5 separate regions of the Homo sapiens genome follow, and all the other regions are linked to region 2. The links come from fine-mapping of genetic effects on gene expression. A gene starts in region 2. Each other region holds a variant in brackets. All regions are shown on one strand. Distances are between the middles of the regions. Region 1 overlaps PITPNM2 (phosphatidylinositol transfer protein membrane associated 2). Region 2 holds the start of PITPNM2 (phosphatidylinositol transfer protein membrane associated 2). Region 3 overlaps PITPNM2 (phosphatidylinositol transfer protein membrane associated 2). Region 4 overlaps CLIP1 (CAP-Gly domain containing linker protein 1). Region 5 overlaps PITPNM2 (phosphatidylinositol transfer protein membrane associated 2).

Region 1 (6,251 bases), 78 kb before region 2:
GGTTATCAGGAAGCCCTCCAGAGAATGAAACACGGGGCCTGGTACAATCTCCCCTGCAGACAGATGGAGAGACTGGAGACAGGACAGGGATTGCTGCAGGCCACGCAGCAAAGAAAAGGCCAGAGTCCACACCTCTCCTGGGCTTGCTGGGGTCCCTATAGGCCTGGAATCAGATGGCCAGAGTCCTCTGTGCTCAAAGAGCCCTTCCCCCAGGTGAAGCTTCCTCGCCTTCCAGGCCCCCTGGAAGCCTTCCCAAGCCCCGTGGGCCGAGTCAGCACCCCGGGCACCTTGCGCCCACTTTCCTTTTGGCATTTATCAGACTGCACTGTAGCCACATGTTTGCCTTGGAGCTCAGGGCCCGAGCCTTGTTCAAAGTTGTGTCCCCAGGGCTCGGCCACAGCAGTTGCTTAATAAAGGTAGGTACCCAGCAAATATTTGTTAGATAAAAGATTTTAATTCCAAACTCTGTCCCAGAACAGTTGTCTGACCTTGGGCAGGTGACCCAACTTCCAGGCCCCTTCCTGGAACAGATTCTGGTCATCTGCCCTGACCGTTTCCCAAGGTGACAGTGAAAAGCCAGATGCAATGCACTCAGGAAGCTGCCCAGCAGTGGGGCTCTGCACCCGGTGCTCATATGACAAGCAGGGGCTCACTGAGTGACTGGCAAGGAGCTAAGAGTCCCCAGGTTGGCAAGACCCAGCCAGGAGAGTCTGCTGATAAGATACAGCCCAGGGACAGACGAGTCCAGAGGTTCTACTAGCCTTGAGCCTGGGGCAAGAGGTCGCCATGCCCTGGCCCCTAGCCCAGCTCTCTTCACTGCTCTTGGGGCTTAAATCATGCCCTAAGCCCATGTCCACTGTGGGGAGCAGGGACTGGGCCCTGAAAGCTATCAGACTGCAAACAGAAGATCACATCAAGTGGTGGTAACAAGGGCCTGGGAGCTGAAGCAGGTCCCTGGCCTGTGTGGGCCTTAGTGTCCCAGCTATAGTGAAGGGGTTTGAGCTGGACCGTATCCAAGGGCCCCAGGACCGTGTGGGCAATGGCACCGCTGTCACAGCTGCTGTCATCAGCACCCTCAGGGCCTCATGGCAGGCATTCATGTTGGTGTGGGCATCAGGGAAGGTCTGCTCCTCTGGACAGAGGCCTCCTAGAACACCCAGGCCGGGCAGCCCAGAGGAACATGACACACGCTGAGTCTGGGAAGCAGGCGATGTCCCCCCTCCCAGCTCCACTGGCTGCCCTGAGGAGCAGAGCTGCCCATGGGATGGGCTCCCTATGAGACAGGATGCTCCTCGGTGTGCCACTTCCTCAAGCCAGGCAGTAACAGCTTACACAGGCCAGGCCTCTTCCAAGGAGGAGCTGGGGAGCTTAGGCCTGCCCCCCATGCCTTCTAAATAACCCCACAGGACCAACCGGTTCTTCAGACCAGGCTAGTTGTGGGGGCAGCCCTAAGGGCCCCACATCAACATGCCCCTTCGCGCATCTGCCCAACTCAGAGAATGCCGTGACGTGTGACTCATGTTGGGGCCACATGGAAGGGATGTCACCGAGTCACCAGGTCAGCCCTTCCTAGCTGCAAACAGGGGGATGCAGGGAAGGAGGCCAGCAGAGAGAGGGAGTTGAACTCCGTTCTGCCTCCAGGAGCCTATCCAGCTGGCCCAGCTCAGTGTGATTCCAAGGAACTCAGGAAAGCTGCCCTGGGTCTGCCTGGCTCAGTGTCCCCATCTAGCAGGTCCGACCTGGGATCCTCGAGTGTCCACTGTTGCTTGGGAGGGAGCAACAGGCTGAACTCTTGAGTAGGGTGGGCAGAGGGCTGCAGGCAGCAGAGGGGGACAGGCATGCCGGCTCTTCTCTAAGTTGAAGCTGCCAGCTGGTGTCTCAAGCATAACTTCCAGCCCCTGCTCTTTCTGGGTCCAGGGGAGGCCCCTCCTTGGCACTGCAGCCATATCCAAGTTTCAGCCATGAAATATGGAGCTGCTCATCTTTTCCCTGTGCTCCCCATAAGCCACACTGCTGACCACGTGTTGTGCTTCCTAGGGTGGAGGACAGCCAGAGAGAGACCCGCAGGCTGGATAACTCTGCTGCCCACCTTCCCCTGAGGGCAAGCTCAGTCCAGGGAGTGGCTCTGGGTTCAGGTGGCTGGCAGGGTACAAACGGCTCGATGATCACACCTCCTGACAGAAAGCTCTGCTGGCTAAGACACCGCACTGGCTCTCCAAACATTTGGGAGCATGAAAAGCAGCGGTTGGCCTGGCCCTGATCCTAGGACAGCCTCTGGTACAGAGCAATCTGACACTGGAGGAGAGCCCCACAAGACGATCATCCGCTTCACACGCTCCTGCGACGAGGCAGGCAAGAAGCACAGAATCTTGAATTCTCACACAACGCCCATGGGGGGACCATCACTCCCATTCCACACAATAGGAAACTGAGGTGCAATGGGATTAAGCAGCTTCTGTGGGTCACACAGCCAGGACTCAAAACCCGAGCCTATATGACTACCAAGTTTTGCTCTTCTACCAGCTTAGGAAGGTCCTAGAGCAGCCCAGTCCCGATCCTTTCCATCTCAGGAATCTAGAGTCCTGGAAAGGGGACTTCAGCCATGCAATTAGCACAGGCCCAGCAGGCAAATGAAGTCAGGCGGAAGGAGTGTTTTAAATTTACCCA[T/G]TCCCCATTCTCTGTCTGCACAGGCTTGACAAAGCCTGTTCACAGCCACAGGCTGTGATAATGGTGTGCCCACGCCTAGAAAGCTGTGAAGTGCTTTACAAGGGCACAGGGTGACAGGAAAAGTGAGGACGCTGGCATGAAACAAAGTGCTGGGCACACACCATCCATTTGTCCTTCCCATTCTCCTGAGGGCATCCATCGCTAACTCTGCTGTGCACACCAGGAAACTGAGGCTCCGAGAGGTCAAAGGAATTCTCCAAGATCTTATAATCAGGCTGATGGTAGACAGGGGACAGGGACAAGGTCTTCTAACTTGCATTCTCCCCTGCCCTCCAGCCCCTGAGCATAGTCTTGCTTAGAGAAAGGTGATGGGGACTTGATGAGGAAAATTCCTCTCACTATGGCAACAAGGTGGGGAAAGTGAGGCACAAAGTAGACAGCAAGTTAAGGCTGGCAATTGTCCCTCTCCTGTCTTCTCCCAAGACACACCTACCATTTGCAGAGTGACAGAGCATGTTCAAGTCCCTCATTCATTCATTCCCACCAAACTTGGCTTTGTCAGGGAGACAGTCAGGTCTCAGAGAGATCCACTGGGGCAGAGCTGGGACCCCAGACTCTCAGACTCCAGGCCTAGTGCTCCCTGTCAACAGCTGCTCAAGGTTTTGAGGTTAAACATTCATCTGAAAGGGGCTTTCAGGATGCCGAAGGCAGCAGAGAGGGCCACAAAGCTGACCTACTGGGTAAACCTGCAACTGAACGTTGGACCAAATAAAACCAGCACCCAGTCAGGAAACCATCATAAGATACAACTTTCCCTCACCTGGAGCTCTGGAAGAAGAGGCTGTGGCCACCAGGCAAGGGCCCTGGGGAAGTCATCCAAGCCAGAATCCGGAGCCCCAACAGGGATCAGGGAAGGAGCCTGACTTCCGAGGCCTGGTGTTTAGGGAGAGCCCTGCCTCTTGAGAGTTTGGCTGGTGTGATTCCATCGCCTGCCCCCCTCCCCAGAGCTCCCTATCCCCTTCAGGGATGGCCAGCTGTCTCCAGCTTCCATGAGGATGGAGCTTCCGTTTTATTCACTTGGCTTCTCATGGGTCGTTAAGGTACAAACCCTCTGCTATTTGTTACATCGGTATACTTTCAACCTCTTAGGAAGAGCTCTTAAATGGATGAGCCTTTTTTCTTCCATATTTCATTTTCATATAGTCTCTAAGCTACGGAAAAATTGCAAAACTAACATAAGAACTCCCCTCTACACTACCCAAAAGCAGCAATTGCTTCCCTTTTGTTCCATCTGCCTTGCATCTGTGTCCCTCCTGCTCTCTGTGTGCATCTCTGGGCATAAACACTCCTGACCCATTGAAGAGTAAGTTATGGGAATGCCTTGTCTCTAACAACAGCCTACCATTCGCCACCGCCTACACAGGTGGTTCATCTCCTAGCACATCACACCTGTTCTCTGTGGTGAGACACATGAAGTAGACAGTGTTATCTCTATGTTACAGATGAAGAAACTGAGGCACATATCTCCTCATGTGCAGTGCTGCTCCTACTACCCTGAGCCACCAATGCTGAAATCCTCAGCCTAAAACACATAGACCCCACGATGCAGACTGTCTTTCTGATGATACATGATGTAGCAATTTTTAAAAGAAAGGGAGCCACTCTGCTCCTATAGCAGAATAACAGTGGATCAGGATCAGAGTGACCCGGATTTTCCACAGTGTAGAGTGGCCTCGTACTCTGGGTGGAAGCCCTGGGGCAAGTGAGTGGTAGGGCAGATGCAGGGGGCTCTCCTCCAGCTCATCCCCAGGCTGCCTGCTCCTTCCTCTCTCTAATTCCTTCCTTTTCTCTTCTCAGACAACTAAGGTGGGTGGCCGTGGAGTGCAGGGAGAGTGAGCACCCCCCAGCTCTCCTCACCCAACCTCCTTGGCCTCCTCCCATACTGAGCACCCGCTGAAGGACAAGGGCTGAATATAGTCTTCAGGCCAAGAGCCCAGCAGCCATGCCCGGTGCAGAGCAGGTTGCATGTATAACTAATGAGTGAGGCAGAGGGAGGGAGGGAGCGAAGGAGTGAAAGAGCCAAGGATCCAAGTTCTGGTTCTGCCTTCACAGGCAGGCTACTCAACCCTCCGAGACTCGGTCTACTTATCTGTAAAATGGGAGCAACGCCAAGTACTTCTAGGGTGGCTGCAAACTGTTAAATCAGATGAGACTTGGGAAAGTGTCTGTGAAGTGGATTTAAGATCCCAGTGCAGACATAGGTTAAGGAGTTTGCTGAGCCCTGCTCTGGGAATTGAAGCAGAAAATGGGAGAAGCAGAATGCAAAGTTAAAGATGCCCAAATACAAATGCCACACTCACATTCACTGCACACACTCTCACATACCCCATAGGCACACACAGGCACATATACATGCCACACACATGCACACACACCTCACACACACAACATACCACACATGCACATATAAATACACACATGTCCATATGCACACAACACACACTCACATATACACCCCCCACATGAGCACACCACACACGCATATGCAAACACATCACACACCTCACATAGACACACACATGCCTACACATACACCCACCCACCCACACACACACACAAACACACACATATGGCCTCACAGCTCAGTACACCCTAAGCTTATCAGTCTCTGATGAATCCCTTCCCTTTGGGCTGGCGGCCCTCAGAAGCCCTGGACAGAAAGCCAGCACCCAGAGGCTCCCCTGCAGACACAAACATGCCAATCCCTGTAATACACCAGACCATGCAACAGAGCACCAGGGAGGAAAAGAGGGAACAGAGGCAGCTCTTTCCAGAAGTGGACAGGGACAGTTGTCTCACTCAGGTGAGACACTGAGCTGTAAAGCAATGCATAAAAAGGACAGCTGTCTGATCTTAACAATCCTGGGAACCGTTTACATGGGATCATGTTAGCATGAGAAGAATGCCAAATGGTAGGTACACCCCTGCTAGCAGGCAGGGAAAACATATTTGTGTGTGCGTGCATGTGGGTGTGAGCTTGTGAGTTGCATGTGCATGCCTGCATGGCATGTGCACATGTATTTGTGTGAGTGTGCATGTGGGGAGGCTGTGTGTGTGTATCTGCAAGCATATGTGCACTTGTGGGCAAAGGCGTGTATGTGCATGTATAAGTACGTGTGTGTTCAGGAAACTCACAAGAGAGACTGGGGGAGAGTTTAATGTTCATGAGCTTCTCTCTTCCTGCAGTTTAAGTCATCATGCAACACCACCAACAGACTTTTTCAAAGCTAGGCACGGGCTGGGCGGGGGCCAAGGCAGATGTTCTGAGTCCCAGAATCTCTGACCCGCATCAGAGCGGCCTGTCCTGCCCAGCACAGCCTGGGTGGTGGATTCCACCATGCTGCAAGCCAGGCCAGGGAAAAATAAATCAGACTTTCTCCTGGGAGCTTCACTGGCTTCGTGGGGTCTGTCTGAACCACAGGGCTTCCCACCACGCCCTTCCCTGAATCCCAGCGCTCCTGTCAAATTAAAGAAAGAACCACTCACCGCCTGAAAGCCAGCCAATGAGGTGATTATTCCAATTT
Region 2 (6,251 bases):
ATACAACCTACCCTGCACAGTGTGTCAGGGAGGCCCAAGCACACTGCATGGTGCATAGTATACAAACAAAACGTGTTTTCCTTCCCCACTTTCCTTTTCATTATCAAAGGAGAAAGCAACCTAGTTTCCTGCGGGAAGGCAAAGTTTGCCTGGCCCTAAATTCTAAAAGAAAATTTTAATATGGGTCACTGTAAGAAGCCTTTAGAAAGGGGAAAATGCCTCAGATTATGGTTTTAGAGTAAACCAGATGAGGATTTGCCATGGCTCTATTTGATAACATTCCAGGGTACCAGTAAAAGCTTAATAAACATCAACCAAATGACCTACAGAGAAGCTGTGCAAAGACCACTTAGCCGCATCTGTGTTTGGAGGCAGGGAGTCCTGTTAAGCAGCTTTCAGGGTGACTATCTGCAAAGGGATTGATCTCATCTAAGCGAAGTTGAGAACTGGCGTACAATGGCTCATTTTGGATTGACTCTGCGGTCATAAGCAGTGGCTCCTCCTGCCCATGGCCAAAGACACTGGAGCAATACCACTACGCTTACATTAAAGAGCACACGGCCCTGGCATTTTTTCCAAAAACAGCAAGGCAGTGATCTCAAAGTACCAGACGTTTCCTCTGCTAATCTCTACAGATAACTGCACATCCTCTATGACTGGTCTTCTCGAAGACCAAGTTGGAAAGACTTTAACTAGATGGGCTGGTTAGGAGAGCATCTATCTGCTTGGTGTTAAAACAGGCCTCTAGACACGGAGGAAGGCAACGGGTCCCCATAACAGAGAATGTATAAGCAATCAACTCTGGACAAGAAGGGCTCTCAGTGGTGATCTAGGCCAACCCTCTCACTATTTTCCTAAGTACCTTACTGTGCAGCAAAGCATTGGGGATGCAGAGAAACGTGATACAGCACTAACCGCCCAGGAGCTCACAGTCTAGTGGGGGGCACGTGTAAACAGATAAGGGCCATTCTGTGTGGCAAGCAAATCAGACTAGGGTGGTTCGAAAATCAGAAGAGGGACCAATTCCACCTGCGAAGGCCAAGACTGGGTCTCAACCAGTGAAGAGTTGAAGGCACCTGGGGAGAGGGAGGGCATGGGAGCACCATGCCTTTGAAAGCCTCTAGGTAGCCTGAGAGGACTGCAGCTTAGGGTATGAATGAAATGGTAGGAGAGGAGGCAGAAAAGGTAGACAGGACCCAGATCCCAGGGGGCCTTAGATACGCAGAGGAATTCTTTCAGATTCCATAAGGTGCAACCAAAACCAAGAGAAACCAAGTGACTTAGTTAAGCTCCTGTAGCAAGTTATGGGAAAAGCCAGGCCTGGAACCCCAGTCTCTCGACTCCCGCAGTCCACTTCTCTCCCCTGCTGCCTCCCACGCCTGAGCAGCTGGGGAAGACCAGGAGAGAGAATGGCCCATTCAACACTCACTACCCAGAGAATCTGGAGTCTTTGCCTGGCCATCTTCAGGGCAGAGGATGTACTGTCCTGTTCACTTGGCAAGCCACTCCTTACAAGAAAAACAGCCCTTCCTAACTCATTGTGTTTCTCTCTGCAGTGGGAGAGGGCTGGAAGTCCATTCCAACCACAGAATACAGTCCCTTCATGGAAGGAAAGTAATTTAACAGCAACAGTCCAGGAATCAGACAAGCTATGGTCCCAGAGGCAAGCGTTGGAGGGGCCTTCTGCTCCACGGAGACACTGACTCCACGCAGGGTACTGACCAGGGCAGGAGACCAGAGATGAATCAACTCCAGCCCGGGAGCTCACCGTCCAGCAGGGGAGATAAGGCAGATGGAAAAGTAACTATAAAATAAGGCAGACGGTGATAAGAGTTACACAGGAGATACAGATAGCAGGCAGTGGGAGTTCAGAGCAGAGAGGAGTCTGGGGGATGGATGTTAGGGGAGATTCAGATGAAGGGGAGCACTTACTGCCTTCCCTCCAGAAGTGGGGGGTCTATCCTAGCAGCTCTGGTCACTCCCAGGTGGAGGCCGGGGAGAGAGCTGGTTGTGGACAAAGACAGATGTTCCAGTGAGGTCTCCTTTGAAGAATCCCGACTCTGGGTGGGGGAGGCAGGTAGGCCGGGGTGTTTGGAGAGGCACCCAGCCCACACTTCAGTGGGAGGGAGAGGAGTGCAGGATGTCTCTGCAGGAGCAAGTCGGTGGAAAGGGGACAAGCCTGGAGGACTTGCCTTGAAATGACATTTGCACCGCGCGCACTATGTTCACCTGGAGTGGCCGTTTGGGATTTCTTGCGGGGAGGCAGTGCACACTGGGGCGGGGGACACTGAACTTTCCCTCTCCCCAAGGCCCCCCGATCAGCCCTGCCACGGATAAGAAAGGATTCGGGGTGGGAAGAAGACAGAGCCGGCACCCCATTACCACACGAAGGGGGCACTGAGGATGGAGACGGGCCACACCCCAACCCTGGGCCCCCGACAAGCAGAGGCCACGGCCCGGGCCTGGGGACGTTCAGCTGGAGGCGGGAAGCAGAGAAGGCGGGCCGGGGGCTCACCTCCGCTTCCTCCCGATAGCCCCTTCCTCGCCCTGGCACCGGCACTGCCCACGCCTGCCCCCCGACCGCTATGACACTTGTCCCTGGCGGGGGTCCCCCACGCGGTCGCGACCGACGGAAATTCGGAAATCAGCGTTTCGGGCACGGATCCAGGGCCGGCGACTCACTGAGGCCAGGCTCGGGCGGTCTCCCGAGCGGGGCTCCCGTACGCCACACCCTCCTCCCTGCCCGGGTCTCCGCTCCCTCCTCCAGCCCCCGGCGGGCTGGAGGCTCGGCGGGCGGGCGGGCCGGGGCCTCTCTGGGAGCCGCCGCCCAGATCCCCAGGTCCCCGGCCAGCGCCCGGCACTGCGGGACTCACCGCGGGCCTGCGGAGCGGCCGCCCGGACGCACTCACCCCGCTCGGCGCGGCCGCGGGCTCTGTCCTCTTCGGGGCCCCGGCTGGGCCGCCGCCACCTCACGCCGCCTCACGGGGAGCGCCCGCCCCGCGGCCCCGGCCCGGCCGGCTGCGCCCCGCGCGCCCCCGCCGCCTGCTGGCCCCGGGCGAGCGGCAGAGCCCCGGCGGGCATTGCTCCCGAGCGTCGCAGGCGGGCGGCGGCGGCGCACGTGCTGGCGGGCGGCTCTCGCTGAGGCGGCCGCGAGCTGAGAAGGAAGCGCCGGGCGGGCGGCCGGGGCCGGCTGGACAGCTCTACGCCGCGGCGCCGCGGTGCCCCGCGCACCCCAGCGGCCGCTGCTGCCCGCGCGCGCCGGGCCGGGCTCGCATTCCCTCAGTGGCGGCGGCGCCTCCTCAGGCCGCGCGGGGGAGCGGCGGCGGCGGCGGCGGGGGCGCGTCCCTGCGGAGTCTCGGCCCGGCCCCGCCGCCTCCGCCGGAAGAAACCTCTCCGACTCGGGCAGCCCGCCTGGTTCCTCAGACCTGCCGCGGCGACCCCGCTCCTCCCCGGCTCGCCCGTGTCCTCAGGGCCCGGGACTGGACTCGGGGGCGGCGGCGCGGATCCCCGCCCCGGGCTCCTCGCCCACCGTCCGCAGCAGCCGAGCGCACTCGGGGGCGGGAACCGGCCGACTTGCGGCCACTGTGACTCTTAAAACAGCCTCATTTTAAAAAATGAAGTTTCTTAGGAGCGAAATGGTAAACCAGGGAGGGCAGAGCGCAGCGGGCAGCTCACCGAAGCCCAGCCCCGGGCGCGGTGCTCGCCACACGGTGGGTCCGCGCTCTCCCCTCAGGACGCCCGGGCCGCGGCCCAGGGAACGGCAGAGCCGGGAGCGCAGCCGTCCCGGTCCCCACCTCAGGGAGTAGCTGGAAGAGGATCACGAACAGTTTAATCCGGATGATCTGGCACGACAGGGCTCTCCAATGGGAAGAGCCCCCGGTGGGGGAGCGCCTGGTGACATTCCTTAAAAACATGAGGTGTTTGTTAGGTTGAGCCAGGGTGGACTTGTTTGGCAAAATCTGAAGTCATGGAACTAAAGAGAGCACACCTAAAACTTAGTGATGTGTGACCCATCCCTACTTGTCACCTTATAAGGCTGAGGAGACGGCGGTGCTCCCCTGGAGGAGAGAGGACAAGCTAAAATTAAGGCGGCCTAGATGACTCCAGATGAAGCCGGGGAGGCCGAGCCCCTGACAGCTGCTCACCTCCTGGGGTCACGGCAGAACCCAACTGAACGGGCCAGGAAGGCCATCGTTCCCGACTCGCCTCCAGGTGCCCCTGACCATGACCACGCAGAGGAGGACCAAGGCGTACCACCATCACCTAGAACGCTTCAGCTCCTTCCCTCCACCAAGAGGTGCCCTAGGATCCATCCAGAAAGATCTGCGGAGCCCACAGAGTCCCAACGGGAACTGTGCTCCTGGATGGACGCCCCTTAACCCATAACTCAAGGACTTCTCTATGCCTGGGACTTAAAATCACCAACAACCCGCTCCTGCAGCCAGCTAGCAGAAATAAACACACAAAGGCCACACGCCAGTTCACAGCCACAAGTATTTATTGAGTGCCTGTAGTGCAAGAAAGAGAGATGGTCCCTGCTCCCGCGGAGCTTACAGCTTCACGACTCCAGCATCTGGCTAGATTCAGAAACAACTGCAGCAAGCACTTGTCTACCCACCAGCAGCACTGTAAAAAGCACATTTCTCACATTATCGGTCACTGTTACAGTGAAATTGTTAGATGTAAAAATTATCCTTGAAATCTGTAGTCATAGAGATGACATGGTACATAATGTCCAGCAAATGCACATTTATGGCTTGATTCCTCACATATCTGAGGGGTCTATGGAAATAAAGTACAAATCAGGCAGAAAAGACTTAGTAACACAGTTCCTAAGAATACTGGGGTAGTAGTTTATTATCAAACTACCATAGAGCTCTTGGCAGGGCAGGAAATTATTTCCAGCAAAATTTGTGCAATATAGTGGATTTAATCAAACCTGCAACTGTCAACCATACATGGTCCCTCATGACAGGTAAATATAATCTACCTGTCTGAATGGTAAAAGGCTACAGGTGTGCATTTATTTTTTAAAGCTTCTTAAAGACTCATAGCACAAGTGGCACATTGAAATCTAGTGAAAACTTGAGATAATCTAAAAATTAAAGTGACAAAAGTGTCTAATTTTACTACATATGTAGGTGCAGAGTTCAGATTTCAAGTAGCGTCCAGCAAAGCACGTGGCTTTTCTGGGCGAGAAGGGGATAGCTTTTGGTTGGCTATCACAGACTCCACCTACATCTCCTAACACCCACTGGCAGGCACTTCCTGTGCATGGTTCTGCCCACAAGCTGTCACCTTTAGATGAAACATTTGAAGGGGCAATTATTTGGAGGATACTGGCAATAATTTTTAGAAAAACAACCTATATTTATACCAAATAACCCCCAAGTCACCAATTAAGACCAAAGTGCTTTCTGAACTTACACGTGACAGGTTATCAAATTTGTTAAATTTTTGGTGGCTAAAAAACCAAACACACCAGAGGGATGCTTAATTTAAACTCCAAAAAAGCTCATTTTTTTGCAAAGCGTGAAGAGAACATCTTAGACCACCTAACAAATGTCAGTCCAAGGCAGTTTTTAGGTCAACTGCTTCGGACATAATCTACTTTTTTATTTCAGAAAGTATGCTACCTCAAGGCTGGGCGCAGTGGCTCACGCCTGTAATCCCAACACTATGGGAGGCCAAGGCAGGCAGATCATTTGGGGTCAGAAGTTCAAGACCAGGATGGCCAACATGGTGAGAACCCCGTCTCTACCGAAAATACAAAAATTAACCAGGCGTGGTATGCACCTGTAATCCCACCTACACGGGAGGCTGAGGCAGGAGAATAGCTTGAACCCAGGAGACAGGTTGCAGTGAGCCAGTATCACACCACTGCACTCCAGCCTGGGCAACAGAACTAGAGACTCCATCTCAAAAAAAAAAAAAAAAAAAAAAAAGGATGCTACCTCAAAAACCTACTTAACTCAATGAATCTGAAATATAATATTTCTTGAGCACTTACTAAGCACCAGGCACTTTACAAAATCTCCCTTAATGAAAGGAGTTTTCTTATTTCATCTTATAGCTGAGAAAGGCAGGCCTGTGCCAGGATGTGACCCAGGTCTCTCTGGCTCCAAGTCTCTCCTTTCTTGTCCCCTGAGCCCAGCTCTGCACAACCCTAGCACGGCCACTTTAGCTACATCTGTTGCTTCAGTTGGAAAAGTCCTTCAGTTGCAAAGACCATTTCCATACCTCAGGAGTAG
Region 3 (6,251 bases), 31 kb before region 2:
TGAGCAAATAAATAAAATGGCATTTTGCATCACTATGTTTGGACGTACTCTGTTAAGCAGCAATAGGTAACTGATGGTGGCCAAGCTCTCTAGCGGGTTTGCAGGAAGTTCTACTTCCATCATAAGACTCATGAAGACCTTTTGTATCCTCACATATGAGAGTTGCTGAGAGACGTTAGTGCTTAAATGAGTCTTAGGAAGAGAGTAGTCTTCCACTCCCAATATCCCAATGGAGTGAATGCTGAAATGAAGCCGGTGCTGAGTTTCAAACAGCGGTCGTGAGGCTGGGGAATTTCTCCAGTGATCCTACGGAGTAAGCTGGCCATCAGATGATCAACTCAAGCTGTCACTTAATTACACGACTCTCTATCTGTGCAGAGCAGGGGTTTGCACACTGTGGACAGAGATATGGATGGGATTCCCTGAGTGCAGTGAAGTGATCATTGGCATGGGATTGAGACCAGAGTTCTGGCTGCTGACTCTGGGTAAGTCAGCTCGGCTCACTGGGCCTCTGTTTCCCCATCTGTAGAGTGAGGAGGCTGGGCTTCATGACCTCTGAAAGGGTTCTCAGTTCAGCTCCAACATTCTACAATCCTATGATTTGGACAGAAGGGAATACTGACCTGTAATCCAAAGCCCTGCATCAAGTCCAATGACTTGCATCTAGGTTTGCAAGGCAGACAGAAGTGCTCACTGGGCTCCTCAGACGTGTGCCCCTGGAGCCCTGCTCTGCTCTCTGTGCCCTTCATGGATTTGTTCATTCATTGTTCAATATCTCACTATGACAGACTCTGGCATGGTCCAATTTCCTCTCCCTAAATCATATGTTTAGCCCCCTGGACTCTAGGTGAGGCTACGGGACTAGTTATATGAGTAGGGGAGGTCCACCACTTCAAAGCCTGGCCCCCAGAATGCCCCATGCAATCTCCTATGCTCCCTCTTTCTCTGCTTACCAGCCAGCTGACTGCACAGATTCACTGGAGAACTCCAGGGGAGCCCCAAGGGATGGGAGAGCCACAGTGTGAAAGGATCCTGGGTCCCCAATTCACCACATGGAGGCCACTCACAGAGCATGCAATTCAACTAAGACAAGAGTGGGGATAAGCCTTTATTGTGATAAGCCACTGAGACTAGAGAATTGTCTAGCAGTTAGCATTACTTAACTAATACATTCACCAAATTGATACTAATTGTCAGATATGTAGGAGATACACAGGAGAATTAGGCTGAGGTCTAATCTTAGCCTTCTTAGAACTACCAGTCTAGGTGACAGTTCAGGGAGATTGGATACAGACCAGTTCTGTACTCTGCGATCATGATGGGAACCTGCTCAAGCTCTATCCATACTGCCTGCTTCCAAAAACCTTACAACATAGGCTCACCACATTTTCCCACCAAACATGAGATGAGCAAAGAAAGAAAGCAACCAAACAGGAGGGAGAAAATCTCTATCAAGGCTCTAAATTGAGAACAATCTAAAAGCAAATGAGTAAAATCTTAGCTGTGTGCTTCCTGGTAGGCAAAGCAAAGAGGGAAATATGCTGGGTCACAAAGCTCTTCCCAATAGTGGAAAACATTAGTTCATGATGAGAAACAGACATTGTGCTTGGGAAGAGTTCTGAGGGGAATGTCCACGGGGCCAGTGTGTGAGGGAATTTGTGCCTGGGAGGAGGAAGCAAGAGGAAACCAAGCTAGCCTGGAAAGCTGTCAGCCTCCAGGGTGTACGGACAGCTTTGCAGCCCCGCCTGCGGCCTGACTGGCTCTTAACGGAGAGCTCCTCAGAGTAATTCTTCATCCTCGTTAATGTCAACACGGCAGCACCATGATAATGATGGAAAATATTTACATACCATACCACTGATGGGTTGTTTAGACCATCTGGCTACTGGACATGGTAAGTATTGTCGAACACATGGCCCTTCCGCAAATACTGTGCCTTAGTGCTGATGGAGGCCAGGCTGCAGGGACGTGAAACAGTGTCACTCGGCTGTGTCCGTGTGGCCTGTGTCCACTGTCAGCTTTAGTCACCTGCAGGTCAGGGGCAGAGATCTCCAGCTCCCACTCCCAGATGTATCTGGGCTCAGCGTTGATGACAATAGCCTAACTATTCCCTTTACCAAGGGCCTCTTCAGGACTCAAGTGATCCAACAAGACTTAACGCAGCAAGACAGCTCTGATTCTGTGGCCACCTGGGGGATTTCTCCAATGATCTCCTGGGACTGCTGAGAATGCTCAGAGGAAAATTCAGCACAGTTCATTTGTGTTTGAAGCAGCTTCTGCCTAAGCTTTGTCATGCTCGGGAGGTAGGGACAAGGATTAGGTAGCACAACTAAAGGCTGTGCTCTATCTAGAAGCATAGAGGATGGTGATTTTTTTTTTTTTTTTTTTTGAGACAGAGTCTTGCTCTGTCACCCAGGCTGGAGTGCAGTGGAACCATCTTGGCTCACTGCAAGCTCCGCCTCCCAGCTTCACAACATTCTCCTGCCTCAGCCTCCCAAATAGCTGGGACTACAGGCACC[C/T]GCCACCACGCCTGGCTAATTTTTTGTATTTTTTAGTAGAGACAGGGTTTCACCGTGTTGGCCAGGATGGTCTTGATCTCCTGACCTCGTGATCCGCCCGCCTCGGCCTCCCAAAGTGCTGGGATTACAGGCGTGAGCCACCGCGCCTGGCTGAGGATGTGATCTTAATCACACCTAAATGAAAATTTCTTCGTTCCATCCATGTGGCTCCATGAGTACTAATATCAGGCTGAATACAGAGGCTTTTTTTCTGGGTCAATGCTAAATATTTCTTCTTTTTCTTTTCTTTCTTTTTTTTTTTTTGAGTTTGGGGTGTTGAGTGGCTTGTTTTATTATTATTTTCTTAATTTTAGTAAGCAAGAAAAAGTTCTGTTGGGAGCCCGTTCAAAAGTAGCAATTTTCTTAATGGGAAGCATACGCTTGCCACCCACGTGAGGAGGCTGTGTCAGCTCAGCAACCATACTGCCCTGTGAGTATGGTGAAGTCGTGTTACCTACTTGACAACCAGTGAGTCAAAGGGAAACTCATCACAGGTGCCTGTATGGCCTGCCGGGGTTTTGCTGCATAGCCGACAAGGGCTTTCTGAGGGCACACCTGCAGCAAAGGCCTGGCTTTGGTTTTGTCAAATATGAACCCGCAGATTTAAGGTCACCTTATAACTAACACCCTCTAAGATTTAAAATGCCCCAACCAGAGCATTCAGGACCTGAGTTCACGGACTGGGTTCAAGAGCCAGTTTTGACTCCAACTGGCTGTGAGCTTCGACGGCCCCTCACCTCCTGGAATCTGTGTTTTGGCTGTGAAAGGAGGGGTAAGACAACAGGTGTCTAAGCAGCATTCTGGTCTAATAGTCACAGGTTGGCTGGGAGGCACTGGCCCAGGGCAGCAGCCTCCTTGTCAAGAGTGCCATAGGAGTTCCTTGGTCTTCTATAGGACTAGTGCCTTTCTCTCTGCAAGTAGAGTGATGACCACAGACCTCTCATATGGAGAGTGGATCATGGAAGAGTCAGAGCCCTCAGCCAGATGTGGCATAAAGCTAATTCACTGTCAGTCACACCCTGGCCAGTGAGAGTGAGCTCACATCCACATCCTCTAAAGGCACTGAGATGTAGTGGCACATGTTTCCTGAGAGTAATTACAGTCTGGGATGATGACCTTTGCTGGTACAACACCTAGCACCTTAGGGCAGGATGGCTGTGCAGAGGCCACACAATACCTCTGCAAAGCTCCTCCCTGCTGGTCAGACACCACAGCCCCAGCAGGGACAACCTCTCTGAGCACCTACTCTGAGCCACCATGTCATTCTAAACAAACATCTGCTCTGCTCACCTGCTCTTTTTGCAAAAGTTATCTGAGCCCCTGGGGAAAATGGAAAAGCATAACGAAGACCACACCCAGATCACTGGGTGCTTCACTTGAACCAGCCTCCAAAACATCCGGCAGCAGGCCAGAGACACACTTCTTGTTTAAACACAGAGAAATGAGACAGCCCCAGGTCTCCCAAGTTAGAGAATAGAATCTTCTCAGAACACACAGCTGCTGCAGGCCCAGCCCAGGCTCCTTCTCTGGGGAGCTGACTCTGGCTCCAGCCCTCAGAGGCCTCTCTGCTGACTCCCAAACCCCAGTGAGCAGGTCAGCGCCAGGCCTGGCCAAGCTCTCACCGGTTCAAGGAGAAATGAGAACATGGCTAATGGGCCAAGCTGTTCAAAGAGCTCCAGTTTGGTGGGGTATGGTGGCACACACCTGCGATCCCAACACTTTACGAGGCCGAGATAGAAGGATCTCTTGAACTCAGGAGTTTGAGGCTGCAGTAGGACATGATCATGCCCTCCAGCCTGGGCAACAGAACAAGACCGTGTGTCAAAACAAACAAACAAAAATCAAAAAGCTCCACTTAGTTTCTTTATTCTTAGATCTTTCCTACTTCTTAGTGTTCCTTTTGTTCATGAGATGATAGCTACAGTGAATTATACCTTTTTTTGTGTTTGTGGTTAAATACGCATAACATAACAATTACCATAATAACTTTTTTATTTTTATTTTATTTTATTTGTTTTTTGAGACAGGGTCTCACTCTGTCATCCAGGCTGGAGTGCAGGGGCATGATTACAGCTCATTGCAACCTTGAATTCCTGGCTCAAACAAACCTCCTGCCTCAGCCTCCTGAGTAGGTGGGACTACAGGCACGCACCACTACATCTGACTTTAACATAATTTTTTTTTAGTAGAGGAAAGGTCTATGTTGTCCAGGGTGGTCTCTAACTCCTGGCCTCAAGCAATCCTCCCGCCTCTGCCTCTTGAGTCCCTGAGATTACAGGCTTGGACTACCATGCCCAGCCCATGTCAACCTTTTGTTTGTTTGTTTTTGAAACAGGGTTTCGCTCTGTCACCCAGGCTGGAGTACAGTGGCATGATCTTGGCTCACTGCAACGTCTGCCTCCCAGGCTCAAGTGATCCTCCCACCTCAGCCTCACAAGTATTATAGTTGGGACTACAGGCACACACCGCCATGCCCATCTAACACGTCAACCATTTTTAAGTGCACAATCATCACTGCCATCTACCTCCAGAACTTCTTCATCTTCCCAAACTGAACTCTGTACCTATCAAATACTAACTCTCCATTCCTCCTGCCCCCAGCTCCCTGGGGAATCTCTTTAGAAATGATGTCAATTGGCCTGGTGCGGTGGCTCATGCCTGTAATCCCAGCACTTTAGGAGGCTAAGGCAGGCAGATCGTCTGAGGTCGGGAGTTCGAGACCAGCCTGGCCAACATGGTGAAACCCCGTCCCTACTAAAATACAAAAATTAGCCGGGCGTGGTGACACACGCCTGTAGTCCCAGCTACTCAGGAGGCTGAGGCAGGAGAATCGCTTGAACCTGGGAGGCGGAGGTTGCAGTGAGCCAAGATCGTGTCATTGCACTCCAACCTGGGTGACAGAACAAGGCTCCGTCTCCAAAAAAAAGAAGAAAGAAAGAAATGACGTCAACTTACAGATCTGGGAAATCCAAGTCGCAAGCCTGTTGATAGGCCTCCTGGTCACATCTGAGCTCCCCCAAAAACATAACCTCCCTGAAGGTTAGCTTCTGGTGTTTCTCAGATACTCGGTGGTAAACAAGCTGACAGAGAAGGGGCAAGGTAGCTGCTGCCCCCACCCTTTACCAGGAACATATCTTCCAGACCACAACCTGACTACAGGAATCCAAAAACCCAAGAGCCCCTCAGTCGTGTGCAAGCTGGCAGCTAATGGGAATGAACAGTCTTAACTGGCTATGCCAGGAACTACCCTACAGCCTGCCCTTTGCGGTAGAAAAGGCTCTCACACAGAAGGAGTTTTCTCCAGATTTTTATTTTACTTAAAAGCTCTTCCTTGCCTGGGGTTTTGAGGTTGAAAACCACTGCCTCGCACTCACACATTGTAAGTGGGAGTGTAAATTGGTACTACCTTTATGGAGAGCAATTTAGCAATTGCTAACAAAAATAAAAGAAAAACACTCCTTGACCCAGCAATTCTACTTCTGGAAATTTATTCTACAGACATGAGAGTATATTTGCATGAAAACCTACTTATTGAGATGCCTGCTACAGCACTGTTTGCTTCCCATCTTCTGCTCTTACAATCTAAAACCCCATCAACAGGGACCTGGTTTAACACATGATGGTCCACCCATGAGCAGAATACTAAGCCCACCATTACAAGAACTGAACAACTCTACATGAGCCAACAGAGAA
Region 4 (5,000 bases), 850 kb before region 2:
TTCATACATTTGTTTTGTAAAATTTAAGTAAAATATGTTCTTAAAATGTAAGAGGTTTATTTCATTTTCTTAGGTATAAATTAATTCTTTTTTTGTTTTGAGACGGTCTCGCTCTGTCACCCAGGCTGGAGTGCAGTGGCGCGATCTCAGCTCACTGCAACCTCCGCCTCCTGGGTTCAAGTGATTTTCCTGCCTCAGCCTCCTGAGTAGCCGCCCGTATTGAACATCTCTGTGATATAAAAGATGAAGAAGTTTGTACACTTCCACTTTCTTTCAGTCCTACCCCTCAAATTTTGTTAGTCACATTCTCTCTATATTTTTTTCTACTTTTTTTCCTTTTTCTTTTTACCTTGCAAATGTTTTACACTTGCATTCACCAAATGATCAAAATTAACATCACCAATAATGGGACAAAGGAACATCACATGCCTCCTGGCAGGACACAGTATCACTTATATAGTCTTCCTACTAAAAATGCATAACCTGAATATCATCAGGAAGAAGCATCAGACAAACTCAAAATAAGAGAGTTTATGCAGCTTAACTAACTGGCCCTGTTCTCATAAAAAATGTCAATGTCATGAAAGACAAAAACAGAGGAATCGTTCCAGATTAAAGATGACTAAAGAGACACGACAACTCAGTGAAAAGAATGCATGATCTTGGACTGAATCCTGAATTAAAAAAACAATGCTGTAAAGGACGTTACTGGGACAACTGCCTGAACAGGAATAGGGTCTGTACGTTAGGTAATACTGTTGTATCGAGGTTAAACTCCCTGAATTTCATGACTGCACTGTTTATATAAAAATAGTAGAATATATGAGCATTATTTGTTCTATTCTTACAACTTTTCACAAAGTTTGAAACAATTTCCAAATGAAATATTAAAAACTTAGTCTGGGTCGGGCGCGGCGGCTCATGCCTATAATCCCAGTACTTTGGGAGGCCGAGGCGAGTCCTGACCTTCAGGAGGTCAGGATTTTGAGACAAGCCTGGCCAATATGGCGAAACCCCATCTCTACTAAAAATACAAAAATTAGCTGGGCGTGGTAGCGCATGCCTATATTTCCAGGTACTCAGGAGGCTGAGGCAGGAGAATCACTTGAACCCGGGAGGCGGAGGTTGCAGTGAGCCGAGACTGCAGCACTGCACTCCAGCCTGGGCGACAGAATCAGACTCTGTCTCAAAATAACAAAGAACCCCACAACATTAGTATGTGCCCATAAACCCCACAGCTGTGTGCTTAGCTCTCTGTTTACTTGGATTTAACGCTCATGACCAGTCCTTGTGTCCGCTTCTCTTTTGCTAAGGCCTTTATTTTGATTCATGTCTTGCTTGGCTCAAATTTATCATCAAGTGGCTCCTTTTCAGAAGGACTCACAAACACCACAGCTTCTAAGTCCTTTCATGTTTGGAAACATGTGCCTGCTGTCTCACCTGAATAGTCATTGTCTGGAGACGATGCTCTTGGCCATATTTCCTGTCCCTCAGAACAGTGGATGTGGTGCAGCAGAGTTTTTTTTGCATTGAATGTATCTGCAGTTGGGTTGGTTTTTTTAAGTTTTTATAAGAAATTTGATTTTTCCGCCTGGGCACTTAGAATTATTATTTTTTATTATTATTATTATTTTGAGACAGTTTCACTCTTGTTGCCCAGGCTGAAGTGTAATGGCGCTATCTCAGCTCACCGCAACCTCTGCCTCCTGGGTTCAGGCGATTCTCCTGCCTCAGCCTCCCAAGTAGCAGGGATTACAGGCATGCGCCACCATGCCTGGCTATTTTTTTTCTTTTTTAGTAGAGATGGAGTTTCTCCATGTTGGTGAGGCTGGTCTTGAACTCCTGACCTCAGGTGATTTGCCTGCCTCGGCCTCCCAGTGCTGGGATTACAGGCATGAACCACCATGCCCACCATAGAATTATTTCTGTATTGTTGAATTTCAGTAATCACCAGGGTATTTTTTTTGGGGTGTCTATTATTTTGGACCAATTTTTCCCAATGGGTCCCCCTACTGGGTTTCCATACAACCCACTCTCTTTTCTTTTTGCGGATTCAGTTCTTCCTTTACTTGGGGAAATTTCCTTATCGTATCTCCTAATACTTACACACACGCACACACACATATATTTGAGACAGAATCTTGCTCTGTCCCCCAGGCTGGTATGCAGTGGTGTGGTCTCGGCTCACTGCAACCTCCACCTCCTGGGTTCAAGCTATTCTCCCATGTCAGTATCCAAGTAACTGGGATTACAGGCAGGCACCACCACGCCTGGCTAATTTTTGTATTTTTAGTAGAGACAGGGTTTCGCCATGTTAGCCAGGCTGGTTTCAAACTCCTGACCTCAAGTGATCTGCCCACCTCGGCCTCACACAGTCCTAGAATTACAGGCTTGAGCCACCGTGCCCAGCCTAAATATAGATACATTTTTGAGACAGGGTCTTGCTATGTTGCCCAGGCTGGTCTTGAACTCCTAAGCTCAAACAGTCTCCTGGCTTGGCCTCCCAAATTGCTGGGATTACAGGCATGAGCCACTGCATCTGGCCCTTTCCTTTATATTTTAAGAAATGCTTATAAGGCTGCTTCCTGTTTATGATTTATTTAGTAGTCTTGATCTGGTGTGGTTTGGTCTTCAATTTGTTTCCTTAATTCTTCAATCTCCCTGTTAAACTTGTGTCATTTTATCATCTTCTCTTTGAACAGTTGTTTTGTTTTATTCAAATAACTTGAGTTTTACATAACACAAAGCACTATTTTCCCTGGGTAACAGCTTCTCTTGGCCTGAATTCCTGTCTCTCTCTGGCTCTTGATGTTCCGTTCTTTCTCTTTTCCCTCTTAGGGTGCAGAATGTGTACACTTCATCTTATTCTCGATGGCTCTACCTAGACCTTCCCTTGGCTCACATATACCGTGAGTTTCCCCCAACACCCTTCCTACCTTATCTGAGGCCTTTATCTTTAACCCCACGTTACAGCTAAAAGTTAAGCACTGTAATTGACACATTTCTGTAGCCAGAGGTTTCTGGATAGAGTCAAGGTTGGGATAGTT[G/A]AGGCTACACATAGACTCCGTTGGTGATCTCTTTCCTGAGATTTTTCTTCAGTGTTCTATGCACATCACTCACTCTACCTGAACACAGGTAATCTCATTCCCACAGGAGAACATCCTCAGCCTTGGGGCACGCATCCCCAGTCAGCTCTTTCCACAGTGCTCCTACTGCTTCTGCTACCTTCCCTTCCTAGAGACTGGAACACAGCCTCTCCTGTGATTGGAGGTGGTTATGTGATACGATCATAGAAATGTGAACTTTCTTCCCCAAATTAGAAGACAGAGCCATGTGAGAAGCCCTTTGCATTTCCCTGCCTTGTCCTCCCCCTGATTCCATCCAGAAAGCTCTGCGATGCTTGAGGTACAATAGCCAACCGGGGATCAGACGGACAAGAACTACACGCCTAGCAGAGCAGCAAGCAGGAAGGAAGGGCCAGCTCCGTGCAGACGTTCCTGAGGGGGTACCCGCCCGGACTGCCTACTGCGGACTTATTATCACTTGAGAAAAATACCCACAGTGCCCTGTGCCTGTCAGCTGCAGTTTGTTGGCTGGACTAGCTACAGAAAATGACCACTGGCAGTTTTTCCCACCGTTGGTAAAATCCTGCGGTGGTGCAAAGGGGCATTGAGCCTCAGAAATTTTTCCTTTACTTTTCCCAGGCTGTCTACTCACTTCTTCAGTCTAATTTTTTCCAAACTAGACTGGGCACAGGGATGGAGAGAATTCAAGTACAAATTCTCAGGATTTTGCTGTTCACCGTCCTTTCCACTTACCACTGGGGACAAAGTGTCAGAGTCAAACCACAATTTTGTTTCCTTTCTTGGTTGCCAATTTACTTTTTATTTTTTGAGACGGAGTCTTGCTCTGTCGCCCAGGCTGGAGTCCAGTGGTACGATCTCGACTAACTGCAACCTCTGCCTCCCGGGTTCAAGTGATTCTCCTGCCTCAGTCTCCCGAGTAGCCAGAATTACAGGCATGCACCACCATGCCCGGCTAATTTTTGTATTTGTTATTAGAGATGGGGTTTCACCATGTTTCTCAGCTAGTCTCGAACTCCTGACCTCAGGTGATCTGTCTGCCTCAGCCTCCTAAAGGGCTGGGATTACAGGCGTGAGCCTCCACGTCCAGCCTTGGGTGCCAATTTAAAAGTTTATAGCATGAAGTTGACTGGCTTTGTTGGCTTCTGCTGGACACATTTTTTAATACAGAAAAACTGTGTTCATAGCATTGGGTACTGAAGGGAGACAGAGTCTGTGATCCAGCTTCAATCAGCCCTAGTTGCCCAGAAGTCCCCTGAGCCCAGATTAAAATTATGATGGCTGATAACCACCATTTTTCCAAACTAATACACAATAAGCTAAAAATAGCTTTCCCTTTCTAAGCATTCATGTCTGGGAATTCAGGCTCATTTAAATGGCAGGTGACTATTCATGATCAATTTAGATGCTAACCCCAATTTTTTTGTATAATACATCTGCTATAACCTCTGTCAGGAAAAACTGTTCATGAAATACAGTTATTGAGTCATTTAATCCCTGTCCGGTTTCCATAAGCAAACTGTAACCTCATTCTACAAATAGCCAGGGGGAGAATCAGCTCTGTTCCCATAGTGATAGCTCACTGTATTTGCTATCTTTACAAGGTGGAACACATGTGAGGTTTGGAAATGATAAATCAGACATATCAAAAGTGACTACCTAAGGTGACTATTTCTATAGAAGAATCAACATTATTTTTAGAATTCCCTATGAAAAGAAAATAGGGGTAGACTATACCTATAGTCCCAGCTACTGGGGAGCCTGAGGCTGAAGGATCCCTTGAGCCCAGGAGGTTGAGGCTGCAGTGAGCTATGATAGTGCCACTGCTCTCCAGCCCAGGCTACAAAGTGAGACTCTGTCTCTTAAAAAAGAAACGAATGCTCTGTATAGTTTCCATTAATCTTAAACTATATGACC
Region 5 (6,251 bases), 44 kb before region 2:
AGGCGTGGGCCACCATGCCTGGCCTGGCTCTACCTTTAGAACACATCTGGGGCCCAACAGGCTCGCAGCCCCCACACACCCGCTGCCTCTCCCTGTCAGGCCTCTGAGCCCGAGCCAAGCCATCGCATCCCCTGTGACTTGCACCTATACGCCCAGACGGCCTGAAGTAACTGAAGAATCACAAAAGAAGTGAATATGCCCTGCCCCGCCTTAACTGATGACATTCCACCACAAAAGAAGTATAAATGGCCGGTCCTTGCCTTAACTGATGACATTCCACCACAAAAGAAGTGAAAATGGCCGGTCCTTGCCTTAAGTGATGACATTACCTTGTGAAAGTCCTTTTCCTGGCTCATCCTGGCTCAAAAAGCTCCCCCACTGAGCACCTTGCGACCCCCACTCCTGCCCGCCAGAGAACAAACCCCCTTTGACTGTAATTTTCCTTTACCTACCCAAATCTTATAAAACAGCCCCACCCCTATCTCCCTTCGCTGACTCTCTTTTCTGATTCAGCCCGCCTGCACCCAGGTGATTAAAAGCTTTATTGCTCACACAAAGCCTGTTTGGTGGTCTCTTCACACGGACACACATGAAACTCCCTATTGCAATTGTTTCCCCACAATCACCCAGCTTCCTCCCTTCCTCCCATCCAGCCTGCTCTCATCACCATAGCCAGAAACCATCCTTTTAAAGCACAATTCGGATCCTGACCCTCTACTGCTCAAACATTTCCGAAGCTTCAGGTCACTCAGAGTCAGGGCCAAAGTCCTGATACAGCCTGCAAAGCCCTGATCTAACGGGGCCCTCAATATTCTCTGACCTCCTCCCCTGCTTCTCTTCCCCTCATTCACTCACTCCAGTTTCCTGAACATCCTGGACAAGCTCCTGCCTCAGGGCCTTTCTCCCTGAGCTACCATCCTGGCTCACTCCTCACCTCCTTCAGGTCTTCGCCTAAATGTCCCCAACTTGGGAGGCCTTCCTTTCCCCTGCTTCTGCAACTCTGATCACCATCTGATGTGCTTACAGGTTTTACTGACTATTTTCTATCGAGTGTCTACCCCCACTAGAATACAAGCCCCAGGAGGGCCAGAAGTTTTTAACATTTTATCACGTCTTTATGCCCAGCTCCTAGAATAGTAGGTACTCACTAAATACGTGTGGAATGAATCGCTGCTGATCCACTGAGGGGTCAATCGTGCTGCTGAAATGAAGAGTCAAGCTATTCAACCCCCTGGCTTGAATGGCGCCATCTCAGGAACCCCTCAGAGAATTCCAAGCTCTGTACACTGTCTCCAGGAACAAAAGCGATTGTCCCAGGCAGGGTTCACATCTCAGGAAGTGTGTGAAGAAACAAAGAAAGGAAGTGACACAGGGGACACAGATCCAGAAAGCTCCTGCTGACGACACCTGGTTACCGGGAGGCATGAGGGCTCAGCGCATACGGGAATGCCTCCAGGCACCTGGAGTGCTGAGCCGTCATGCCTCCAGCTGCCTCCCTGCAGGTGGGATGAGGTCATCAATGTGAGTGCACTGGATACCCACCATGGAGAAGTACTGGAAATGAACCGAAGACAGGGGCTCTGTACTAGAGCCAAGGGAAGGCAGAAACGAGAGGAAGAAGGAAAAGAAAGGTGGTGAGAAAGAGTTTCCCATGCTGAGAACCTGCAGGCAGAGATGTAGAGAAACCCCCAGCCCCAGACCACCACTGACCAAGACAGCAGGGCACCCGGCCTCACATGCCCTCAGGTAGGCCAGGCCAGCTTCCTTCCTGGCCCTGCCTGTCCTGAAGAGCACAAGTGAAACAGACCCATGCCCATCCCCCTGCAAGCATGGTATGCCTGCGCAAACCTCAACAAGTGACCAAAAGCATCGCCCAGAAACAATCGTCTTGCCACAGGCCCCCTGCTTCTTCTCTTCACCCCAGATAGCCTGCTCTCAACACGGCAGCCAGAAGACATCCTTCTGAAGCACAATTCGACACAAGCCAGAGGAATGCAGGCTTCTGCCACCTTGTTGAAAGTAAAATACATTCTGGGCCAGGTGTGGTGGTGTGCACCTGTAGTCCCAGCTACTCAGGAGGCTGAGGTGGGAGGACTGCTTAAGCCCAGGAATTCAAGGCTGCAGTGAGCCATGATCACACCACTGCACTCCAGCCTGGGTGGCAGAGCAAGACTCCATCTCTAAAATAAGTAAATAATTCCTTTAAAAAAAAAAACAGGAAGAAAAGAAAGTACATTCTCAGGAAGACATGCTGCATCAGAGCAAACAAGGCAAATGCAGGGGTCAGTCCCCAGAGCTCCGGGGAACAGGAAGAAGAGGAGACTGAGAAGAGCCAGCAATTTCTGGCTAAAGCCCTGCGTACTGAGCAGCGTCAGGTGTGTGTCAAAGAACCATATCAATAAACAAAATGTAGATGGGAGCAGTCAGGAGGGGCACAGGTGACAGAACTGGCCAGGGCATGACATGGGTCATCAGATTGTGCCCAGATCTCTACCAAGCTCTGTGGGGACAGCAAAGGAGCTGAGGAGGAGCTCTCTGTGGACTTCAGGGCAGCATCTTTGCTCCAGGGCATGAGGGCACTCAGCCCTCTACTTCCTCTCCATAACCTCCCCATGCTCTGGGCTCTCTGGGCAGCCTTCTAACATGCGAGACTTATCACAGACCTAAACCTCACAGGGACGGACAGGCCTGCATTCCCATGTGGGACTAGGGCTGCCTGAGAGGAGGGACTAGGAAGCAAGGCCCTCGCTGCAGGTAGGGCTCTGCTGCTGCTACGGATGGAGATAAGTCCCTTCTTCACCTGGGATGGGACTTCATCCAAGGGGCTGGAGGTGGGGATGGGGGTACAGCATGGGGAGGTGGGGACGTGCCCTGGAAAGTCTGTGTCATTGCTGCTGTGGTCTGAGGCCCTGCCCATGTCATGAGCTCTCTTTCTCCTCAGGAGACAGTGACCTTTTGAGGCCTGTCACAGAGACAATGGCAGGAAGTGCCCCTCCCTGCCTGAGCCACGGGGAGTCCGGAAGGAAG[C/T]CACTGCCTGGGCCCAGGACCCTCCCCGCTGAGCTCTTGCCCAAGGGACACTGAAGCTCATGGCAATGCCAGAAGCTCTGCTCACCAATGCCGAATGGCAAACATCTTCAACTGTGAGGGCTAAGGGCAAATATTCTCCTTGGCTGGGACCCTCCTCTTTAAGGCAGACCCCTACTGTGAAAGACAGCCAGGCAGTAGGAGACACAACCCCAGCTACCCCACCCACCACCTGCCACCCCCACCTTCTGGAAGGAAGGGCTCTGGATTCCTCCACAGCAAGGAGCTTTTCTAAAAATAAACCCTGGTCCTTGAGCCCTTTCCTTCCTCAGTCCCTTGTGGAGGAGAGAGGAGAAGGAAAGATCTCGTTCTTAGCGAACCCCAGGGAGTGTGGCCTCCCTCCACCCCATGACTCTCGCTACCAGGGCCCGGTGGTCACTATGCCACAAACTCCCAAGCAGGGTGCAGAGGCATGGAGGGGGCAACCCTAATCATCCTCACATGGGGCCTGCCATTTTCTAGGGGAGGGTTTTGGGAAAAGCAGGTGGTACCAGCTCTCTAGTCCAGGATCTGGGGGGAAAGGATGGCACCCAAAGGCAAGTCTCCCACATTACAAGGTTCCCAGGTCAACAGCAGACACAGACACTTACTGAAATATTTCAGGGAAAATGATGCCAAGAATTCTGAGGTCCAAGCAGTATGCCGTGACAGCACAGAGGGAGGAAGGAGAGGCTAATGCGGACCCAGGCCTTGCAAAGAAATTTAGAGGAAAGGAGCTGTTTGAAATGGGCTTGGAAGGTGAAACAGGAACCTGACAGGTAGAGGTGGGAAGAGGGAATTTCAGGATGCTGGAACTGCATAAGCAAAGCGCAGAGAATGTACCAGCATATAAACTAGACGCGGGCAGGGATGCCTGTCTGTTTTGTTCACAGTGGCGTCTCTGGCAACTGGAATGGTCCCTGGTGCAAACTAAGTAACAATAAATACTTTATGGACAAATGAGTGGAGCAGAACAATTCCTGAAGACATTTTAGGTCTAAGTGAAGACCTTCGGATGAGGTGAGCTGCAAGGCCATGGTCTCTGCAAAGCCACTGCACTCTGGAATGCAGTTGTTAAGAAGGAATAGAACCTCCTTCCTGTAAGAAAGGAGACAGGAGACCAAGGCTGTGTTGAAGCAGCGTCCCTCAGAGCAATGTCAGTGCTCAGGCCATGCAGGGCAGAAGAGCTCTCACCGGGCCCTGCCTCGACTTGGCAGCCAAGACCTTTGGCAACAGGACAACCACGAGGCCCCAACCCCGCAGAACCCGAGTGACCCCTGGAGAAGCTGCAAGTCAGGGCTGAGTGTTACTATGTGCCCTCCCCTACATCCACTCCCAGTAGCTGGGACACCTTGGAAAGTGAATTAAAACAAAACAGAAAAACAAAAAATACAACATAGCACTCTCTCTTCTTAGCACTTGGAGGCCTTTTCACAGCAACTGAAAAGAATGAGCAATTAGAGAAGATAACAGTCCACGGTGCCAGCCTGGAACTACGGAGCCACAGAGGCAACTTAAGAGGCCCCATCACAACGTGCCCTATCTTCCCAGCAAGGATGAGGGCACCCGGAGAAGGGAAGGGACTTACCCGAGATCAGACAGCAAGTAACAGTTGAGCCTGGGCTGAACCAAGGGCCCTGTGAGTCACAGGCCAAATTTGAAAAACCATGCCATGTGCTTCCAGGTCTAGACTCGGGGTCCAATCCCAATCCCACCACTGACTAGCTGTGCAACCTGGAGCTGATATCTGCCATCTCTGAGCCTCGGCTTCCTGTGTAAAAAGGGACCCTAACAGGCACTGCTCATGGTTACTGTGGGACTTAGCCCCATGCAGCAGGGGCTGGGTACATTAAACCTACCCCCACCAGCATCCTCACCTCAGCTTTGCTAGCTTCCCTTGATGGAACATCCATCCTCCGTGCCTCCAAAGCTGAAACTAGCCAATGAGTGAACAGGAGAAGGGTTCATCAACATTTAGGAAAAAAAGAAGGAAAAATCACTTTACCTCCTGTTCCACCCAACAAAGGCCTTGGCATGGAAAATGGGGCCAAGGCCAGGGATTGTGCCTGAGACAAAGAAATACGAAATGGAAAGAAGCTTGGGAGGCCAGGGGCTCCTGCTGCCAGCTGGGGGTGGGAGGGGAGAGACTGCTACTCCCTGGGCCATTCAATCTCTAGACCTGGCACTCCCTGAGACTCAAGACAGAGGCTCAGGCCCACCCTCCACTCAGCCTTGGCTTCTCACTGTACATCCAGAGGGATGGTGCATTAAAAACCACACTCATGCTTGTTTCTGGGCCACTGACCATGACTTGCGGGCAGCTGAGCAAGGCAGCAGCCCAGCCTCTGCTCTCTGCCAAAGCCAGCGAGTAGCCAGAGCCTGAGCTTCCCAGCCAAGGCACAGAAGAAGCATAACTCCTGCCTGTCCTCTTCCATGTACTAAGGGTAGAGCAGGCCAGGCTAAGCCTCAAGAGCAAACAGAAAAGAGCCACTCTGGGGTGCTCTATAAACAGGAGAATAGCAGCCGTTGGGGCCTCAAAGGCTGACCCAAGCAGTTTTTATCCTATTTGGAATCGAAAGCTACCAGAGGCAGAACATCGGTCTTTCGTATTTAGTGAAAAGAAGTCAATATTTGCAAAAGCGTAATCAATAAATACAATCTACCCCACATTAATCAGATAAAGTCAGGTTTATAGTGTCTTTTTAAGAGACGGGGTCTCACTGTGTTACTCAGGCTGGAGTGAAGTAGTGCGACCATGGCTTACTGCAGCCTCGAACTCCTGGGCTCAAGTGATCGTCCTACATCAGCCTCCCCAGTAGCTGGGACTATAGGCATGTGGCACCTCACCCAGTTAATTTTTTTTTTCAGAGATATGCAGTCTCACTATGTTGCCGAGGCTGTCTTGAAATCCTGGCCTCCAGTGATCCTCCTGCCTTAGCCTCCCAAAGTGCTGGGATTACAGGTGTGAGCCACTGCGCCCAACAATAGTCCGGTTTTTAGGGGAAAAGGGAAACAGCAATAAAGTCTCCGTACCCTCAAACTCCAAAGGCCAGGGTGGCCTGCAGGGCCTCAGCTCTGGGAAGTAGGGTGCTACTGCACAGGTGGACGGCCTTACCTGTGGGTCTGAGAAGGCTCCACTGATGTCCCTGTCAAAGGAGGAGAAATGGGTCCCTAGGCTCACAGAAGGT

The links. PIP is the estimated chance that this variant, and not a neighbour inherited with it, causes the effect. A credible set is the group of variants that fine-mapping cannot tell apart.
Region 1: its variant is the best candidate, but not a certain one, in a credible set for the expression of PITPNM2 in whole blood (TOPMed, PIP 0.77).
Region 3: its variant is the best candidate, but not a certain one, in a credible set for the expression of PITPNM2 in whole blood (INTERVAL, PIP 0.65).
Region 4: its variant is the best candidate, but not a certain one, in a credible set for the expression of PITPNM2 in fibroblasts (GTEx, PIP 0.77).
Region 5: its variant is the best candidate, but not a certain one, in a credible set for the expression of PITPNM2 in monocytes (TOPMed, PIP 0.68).

The regions. Positions count from the first base shown.
Region 1 is chr12:123,069,361-123,075,611 of GRCh38, forward strand. The region is part of intron 2 of PITPNM2 (phosphatidylinositol transfer protein membrane associated 2); the gene reads right to left. Among named protein-coding and RNA genes, the nearest start is that of PITPNM2-AS1, 8.9 kb to the right of the region's middle. RefSeq lists an enhancer at 959-1,831. The variant T/G (reference allele first, on the strand shown) is at 2,668.
Region 2 is chr12:123,147,844-123,154,094 of GRCh38, forward strand. PITPNM2 (phosphatidylinositol transfer protein membrane associated 2) reads right to left here and starts at 3,247. Exons shown (of 26, transcript NM_020845.3): 1 at 2,910-3,247. It also overlaps a transcript of MPHOSPH9 not described here. RefSeq lists silencers at 2,801-2,890, 2,991-3,130, 3,151-3,410, 3,431-3,630.
Region 3 is chr12:123,116,987-123,123,237 of GRCh38, forward strand. All of the region lies in intron 1 of PITPNM2 (phosphatidylinositol transfer protein membrane associated 2), which reads right to left. Among named protein-coding and RNA genes, the nearest start is that of PITPNM2, 31 kb to the right of the region's middle. RefSeq lists enhancers at 1,440-2,253, 2,254-3,067. The variant C/T (reference allele first, on the strand shown) is at 2,520.
Region 4 is chr12:122,300,486-122,305,485 of GRCh38, forward strand. The region is part of intron 20 of CLIP1 (CAP-Gly domain containing linker protein 1); the gene reads right to left. Among named protein-coding and RNA genes, the nearest start is that of VPS33A, 36 kb to the left of the region's middle. The variant G/A (reference allele first, on the strand shown) is at 3,048.
Region 5 is chr12:123,104,207-123,110,457 of GRCh38, forward strand. It overlaps PITPNM2 (phosphatidylinositol transfer protein membrane associated 2), which reads right to left. Exons shown (of 26, transcript NM_020845.3): 2 at 6,179-6,251. Among named protein-coding and RNA genes, the nearest start is that of PITPNM2-AS1, 26 kb to the left of the region's middle. RefSeq lists enhancers at 10-750, 751-1,493, 2,929-3,138, 2,977-3,717. The variant C/T (reference allele first, on the strand shown) is at 3,028.